2 linked regions of the Homo sapiens genome follow. The protein of the gene in region 1 purifies or fractionates together with the protein of each later gene. This does not show direct contact. Each region holds a gene or a part of one and is shown on either strand. Other genes may lie near its edges.

Region 1 (3,500 bases):
GGCCCTCAGAGACCTTCTGGTGCCAACCTCTGTAGTTTCTGTACAAGGCATCTGATGCCCAGAATGGTCAGGTGGCCACAGTTCTCTCAGCTGGTCAGTCACAGAGCCAGGGCCAGCACCTGGGCAGGGGGACCCCCACTGTACCCAATCCCACCCAGCTATCCCACCCCCACTTATTTACATGGTAGATGTGGCACCCATGGGTCTGAGCAGGTCTGGGCTCCCCCACAGCCAGTGTCAGATGGCAGCGGTTAGCACTGGCTTCCCTGGCCTGCTGCCCTGATCAGGCCCCACTCTCTTGACCTTGGTGGGCACTGTACCTCCATCCAGCTGGGATCTGCCCATGTGCCCCTGCAAGCTGCTTATGTCCAGAGGGAAACACTGCCCATCAGTGGTGCCAGGCCAGGTCTTTCCTCACCTGTGGACTGAGGGGAAGGGGCTAATGGTGGCCAGGTCTTTCCTCACCTGTGGACTGAGGGGAAGGGGCTAAGGGTGCCAGAGAGCAAGAGGAAGGAAGGTACAGGAAGCTGACACAGTGGGAGGTCCAGCCCCTGGCTACCTAGGGTGCCTGAAGTTCACCATCGCTAGATGCAGGCCTTAGGCATGTAGGTGAGCCAGTCTAGTTGAAGTAGGATGAGGCCCTGGCTGTGCCTTGCTGGGCGGCCCTTGGCCTTGTGCTTTCAGGGTGGTGCCTGCTCTGTCCCAGGAGACTCTGACTGGGCCCTGGGCCTCCCTCGGCTGGTCCTGTGGTGCATCAGCACCTGGGCCCAGTGCTGGGTGGGATGGGCCTGCCACTAGGGTGGACAGAACACGGTGGTCTCCCCCAAAGTAGTGGAATCACCTCCTCCCATGGGGCATCCATCCCCAGCAGCTGTCCACACAGTGCTGAGTGGGAATCCATGCCCATCGGGCCTTGAAGGCAGGATGGATGGACAGCCAAACCTTGCCGTCTCTTCTAGAAGGCTAGCTCCCTGGCTGTGGGTCCAAGCGGATCAGCAGCAGCTGTACTGGGACATGACTGGGCTTTGACTGGCTTAAAGAGCACGGAGTGCTGGCAACCCCACTGTCGGGGGCTCAGGCTCCTAGCAGGAGGGGTCTGCCCTGAGGCTTTCAACAAGGGCCTCAGTTCCTCACAGGAGCCTGATGAGGTCCCCTGGGTTTAGTGCAGGTGCCAGCACAACATCTGGCCCATCCACGGTGTCACATGTGGTGGGCTTCCATCGCCCACCCTCCGCTCCAGGTCTCCGTCCACAGGTTTTCTCCTCTGGGAGAAAATCCACTGGTTTTCTCGTCTGGAATTCTCTGTCACTGCAGCCCCTTCCCCTCCCTTTCTCCTTGTCTTAGGTTCTTCCTGGGTGCTCCACCCTGGCCCTCTTCTTTTCCTGCCCCTGTACCTAGACCTGCCCTCAAGTGGGGGACTGAGGAGCAACCCCTTCCTCTCCCTTCCTCAGACCCAGAGCTTGGACCCTTAGCTCCGGGGGGGCCGCTGGGGCCTGCTCAGGGCTCCATCAGCCTTAGGCCAGCCCCAAGATGCTGATTGAAGATGAAGGTGATAAAGTGTGTGTCACTCGTTTGTCTAGCCTGATTTATTAGCAGTGTTTGGAGTATAATTATTCTATAGTAAAATATCTATGAGAGAGTAATATCCCAATTGGTGTGGCTCCTGGGTCTAATTGCTCCCACTCAGGCCTGTCAACAGCGGTGCAGCAGTCACTTCCTTTGAGAACTGGGAGGGAGGGTCTGTGAGGAGCAAGTAAACATATGGCCTCAATGACTCATGCCTCCGAAGGGCTGAGGGAGGGGCCAGGAGACATGCCTGGCCTATGTCCTTCCACCAACCTGGGGCCACCAGCATTTTCCTGCTCAGTCCAGGGAGGCTGGAAGTGGAAGCACAAGAACTGTAGGCAGTCCACAGAAGCTGAGTCCAAATCCCATATAGACAACCCTGAGCAGAGACAGGCTTCCTCCAACCAGGGACAGCCTCACAGGGTGACTGTGGATGTGTGCAGAGGTGAGATCCTATGAGCCCAGGGCTTTGGTCGAGGAAGAAGGCCTTCCTGAGGCTCCACAAGGGAGGAAAGGGCATGGGTGCCCAGGCTAGGAGCAGCTCCCCCAACTCGCAACCCCCTGAGGCTCTAGCTGAATGGGCACCTGCCTTAATGCTAGGGGCTGGCTGTAGGCTGGGGCTTCTGTGCCACATGCTCTCCTCTGGGCCCCAGGGCAGGAATGAGCCTGCCTCCTGCCTCCCTCCACTCTGTCACCACTCTACTGATTAAGCATATACTATGCGCCTTTACTAGCTACATACTTTATTTTGAAACCGTTTAATAACCCTGAGGAAGAGGTCATTATTTTTCCTATGTACATTTTTCCCCAATTAAATCAATCAAATTATGTGCAAATATTTAGGAAAAGTAATATATGCACATGGTAAAAAATTTCAAACAAGACAATAATTATTCAGTGTAAGGAAGTTTTCTTCCTACGAACCCAGGTCCCCTCCCCAAAGGCAGCCAGACTGGAAACCAGCCCAAGAAATGTGAAGTGACCTGCCCAAGGTCACAGGGTAGTAAAGCTGGAGTTTGAACTCAGGACTAGCTGGTCTCTTTTGAGTCATGAAATTTCCACTTTGTCAGACAGATTCTTGCCCAGTGTGTCAAAAGAGTCTGCGTTCTCTTGAAAAGCTCGAATCTCCTTGGTGGGAGACTTTCCTTCCTGGTAAGGTGGAACTTGGAGATCATACAGAGTAGGCTCAAGCCCTTGCTGTACCCAAAACAGCTGTACGCCTTGGGCAGCCATTTAATCTCAATTGTTCATTCCTTCGAAGGATGGTCTTGACCTCATCAGGTTGTTTTGAAAGAGCCACCATAGCTTGTGGCTTCATATGTAAGAGCCGACTCTCATCAGGTGAAGCAAGAAGGTAGTGTTCCTGTTGCAGCTCCTGAGTGATTGGCTGAGTTTGTTCCAAAGGGGCAGCCCTGTTTGCTTTGAGTAGGCCCCAGATCACCCAGAGATTTTCAGGTCATCTTGCTTGACCAGGGGCTCAGCCATCCGACAGACTGGTCCAATGTGCAAGCCTGGGCTTTATTTACTCCCAGCCTTACCACCTGCTAGTGTGAAAAGTTGAGCAGACCATGAGACTTCCATGTTAAGTGGGAATTTTCACAGTGCTGCACCAGGGTTAGATGAAGGTGAGATGGGGGATTGCACATAAGGTTCTGAGATCAGTGCTTGTCTCCTACTGCATCGTTATTGTTTTATCATTATTAATGTTTAAGCTCTTAGAGTCAAAATAATAATGCCTGGAGCGTGGGTCCACTCTTTTCCCTGGGACTCCATTATTTCTCTTTGAAGCACAGGAGCCAATCCCCCTGGTCCCTATCAGGAGCCACACAGTTTTGGTTGAAGAGGGAGGGGCTGAGAGTCTGGTAGGCTCATGGGTGTGGTTATCCAGCGCAGGGGCCAGAGAAGTGCCCTATGCTCTTCTTTCCCCACCGTGC
Region 2 (3,500 bases), on another chromosome or scaffold:
CAACATACAGAGATCTTGTCTCACAAAAAATAAAAAAAATTAGCCAGGTGTGGTGGCACATGCCTGTAGTCCAGATACTCGAGAGGCTGAGGTGGAAGGATAGCTCGAGCCCAGAAAGTCAAAGATACGGTGAGCCTTGATTGTACCCACTACACTCCAGTCTGGGCAACAAAACAAGATCCAGTATCAAAAAAAAAGTAAAATAATACAAAGGTGATAAAGAGTCACTCCCCCACTTCATACCACTTCCACCCATAAGAGTAATCAATGTGTTAACTGCTTTGTATTATGCTTTCACATCTTTCTCTATGCTCACACAAAGACATGTATACTTAGGTATGCATTTCTTTGTTGTTGTTGTTGTTGTTATTTTTAAATGGGGTCATTTTACATACATTATTTTGCATTCTGATTTCTTTTACTTGACATGAATGTATTGTCAATAAGTATCGATCTAATTCAAAAATAGCTGCATAACATATGGATGTATCTAATTTATCCGAACATTCTTTATTAAAAGTCTATGAGTGGTCTGGCGCAGTGGCTCACGCCTGTAATCCCAGCACTTTGGGGGGCCGAGGCAGGTGGATCATGAGGTCAGGAGATCGAGACCATCCTGGCTAACATGGTGAAACCCCGTCTCTATTAAAAAAAATACAAAAAATTAGCCGGGCGTAGTGGCGGGCGCCTGTAGTCCCAGCTACTTGGGAGGCTGAGGCAGGAGAATGGCGTGAATCCAGGAGGCGGAGCTTGCAGTGAGCCGAGATTGTGCCATTGCACTCCAGCCTGGGTGACAGAGCGAGACTCCGTCTCAAAAAAAAAAAAAAGTCTATGAGTATTAATACTTTTTTTGAGACAGGGTATCGTTCTGTCACTCAGGCTGGAGTGCAGTGGCACAATTTCGGCTCACTGCAACCTCTGCCTCCTGGGTTTAAGCGATCCTCCCACCTCAGCCTCCCATGTAGCTGGGACCACAGGTGCACACCACCACGCCCGGCTCATTTTTTGTATTTTTGGTAAAGATGGGATTTTGCCATGTTGCCCAGGCTGGTTCGAACTCCTGGACCCAACTGATCCACCCGCCTCAACCTCTCAAAGTGTTGGGATTACAGGTGTGAGCCACCACACCCCGCCTTGCCTTTTTATTTCAATTAACTCAAAAATAAAATTAAAGTTTGAGCCGGGCATGGATGGCTCAAACTTTAATTTTATTTTTGAGTTAACTGAAATAAAAAGGCCTCCTTTCGGAGGCCAAGGCGGGTGGATTTCTTGAGTCTGGAGTTCAAGACCAGCCTGGGCAACATGACAAAACCCCGTCTCTACCAAAAATACAAAAAATGAGCCAGGCATAGTGGCACACACCTGTGTTCCCAGCTACTTGGGAGGCTGAGGTGGGAAGATCACTTAAGCCCAGGAGACAGAGGCTGCAGTGAGCCAAGATTATGCTACCACATTCCAGCCTGAGTGACAGAGTGAGACTCTGTCTCAAAAATAAATAAATAAATAAATAAAGTTTTTTAAAAAATTAAAGTTTGATCAGAGACTGTTGCTTAACTCATTGACAATTTCAATATAAGCAAAATACCTGGTGATTCTTCATTTCCTCTTCTCTCCTTTGCTGAAGCTGCTTTAATTGCACTTGGAGCTGATTCTCCACTTGCCTCTGTTTGTCCAGGACCTCCTGGTAACGCTCTTTCAACAGGGTTCTCTCTGTCATCATTTTATCCTATTATGAACAAGACAAGAAAAGCTTATTTCCTAATTTAATCACAAGAAACATTCACCAGTGCCTGTCCAAGGCATTGTATAGAGCTCTATGACCGCACTATCCAATAATGAAGCTACTCTACTAGCCATATGTGGCTATATTCAGTAAAATATGATGAGATTGGCTGGGGATGGTGGCTCACACCTATAACTGTAGTACTTTGGGAGGCTGAGGCGGGCGGATCACTTGCATTCAGGGATTCGAGACCAGCTTGGGCAACATGGCAAAACCTGGACTCTAAAAAAATACAAAAATTAGCTGGGCATGCCAGTACTCCACTGTAGTCCCAGCTACTTGGGAGGCTGAGGTGGGATGATCGCTTGAGCCTGGGAGGCAGAGGTTACAGTGAGCTGAGATCGTGCCACTGCACTTTAGCCTAGGCGACAGAGCAAGACTCTGTCTCAAAAAAGCGTCCGGGAACATGATTCCTTACTGGTTAACAACACTGAAAACTGATGGATCCACTAAAGAGGCCTGGGAACCTGGTATTCAGACTGAACAACTCAGCAAGCTTTCATATAAAGTCGGGATTAGAAGAGAGACTCCTAGGCAAGGCACGGTGGCTCCAGCCTATAATCTCAGCTTTGAGGGGCCAAGGCAGGAAGACTGCTTGAGGCCAGAAGCTGAAGACCAGCCTGGGCAACATAGTAATACCTGGTCTCTACCAAAAAATAACAATAATAAATAAATAAATAGAAGTGCTTCTGAAAACAGTTTAGCTCTGCCACCCCCATGTCAGTAAATCAAGAAAATCAATGGTTACCTTTCAAAGGGACACTAAAATTTGAAGAGGGTCAACTTAAAACACATTTAGTATGAAGTAGCCCATATAATATTTAAACTGAGAGCACTAAACTGAATTTTTTCATTAAATAATAACCATTTTCAAAGAAAAAAAATTTTTAAAACAAATGAGGAAAATATCCTATTATAATCATTTTAACAAAAGGCTCTCAAGGCTGGGCGCAGTGGCTCACGCCTGTAATCCCAGCACTTTGGGAAGCTGAGGCGGGTGGATCACTTGAGGTCAGCAGTTCGAGACCAGCCTGGCCAACACAGTGCAATCCCATCTCTACTAAAAATACAAAATTAGCCAGGCATGGTGGCACATGCCTGTAATCCCAGCTACTTGGGAGGCTGAGGCAGGAGAATCACTTGAACCTGGTAGGCAGAGGTTGCAGTGAGCAGAGACTGTGCCCCTGCAGTCCAGACTGGGTGACAGAGCGAGACTCCGTCTCAAAATAAATAAATAAATTAATTAATTAATTAATAAAAAAGGCTCTCAAGATAGGACCTTGGCTTTGGGACAAGCTAATCTTTAGTCCATGTACTGAAATGTGACTAATGTGTCCCAAACAGCTGATTACTCAGCATCACACCTTTCCAGGGATTCTGAACCTGGCTTCTACAGGTGGACCCCGGAATCTTTGAACTCTCTGCAACTGATGAATGTATATATTTTTCTGAGATAAGAATTCAAAGTTTCCAAAAGATTCTGAAAGAGGATCTTAACCAAAGAAAAGTTGAAACCAGTAGATTATTCTTTTCTGAGACAGAGTCTCACTCTGTCGCCCAGGCTAGAGTGCAGTGGTGCAATCTCGGCTTACGGCAACCTCCGCCTCCCGAGTTCAAGCAATTCTCTCTGCCTCAGCCTCCAGAGTAGTTGGGATTACAGGCACCCGCCACCACGTTCGGCTAATTTTTGTATTTTTAGGAGAGATGGGGTTTTGCC

Evidence for each region. The genes of interacting proteins can lie anywhere in the genome.
Region 2: the proteins of EEFSEC (region 1) and RNF214 purify together in Homo sapiens (affinity purification with mass spectrometry; one large-scale study listed by BioGRID and IntAct). This does not show direct contact.

Annotation. Positions count from the first base shown.
Region 1 is NC_000003.12:128,341,981-128,345,480, forward strand, and holds part of EEFSEC (selenocysteine-specific elongation factor), read left to right. Parts: intron 1-3,500. UniProt on the Homo sapiens protein: Translation factor required for the incorporation of the rare amino acid selenocysteine encoded by UGA codons. Replaces the eRF1-eRF3-GTP ternary complex for the insertion of selenocysteine directed by the UGA codon.
Region 2 is NC_000011.10:117,242,671-117,246,170, reverse strand, and holds part of RNF214 (RING finger protein 214), read right to left. Parts: intron 1,727-3,500; coding exon 1,586-1,726; intron 1-1,585.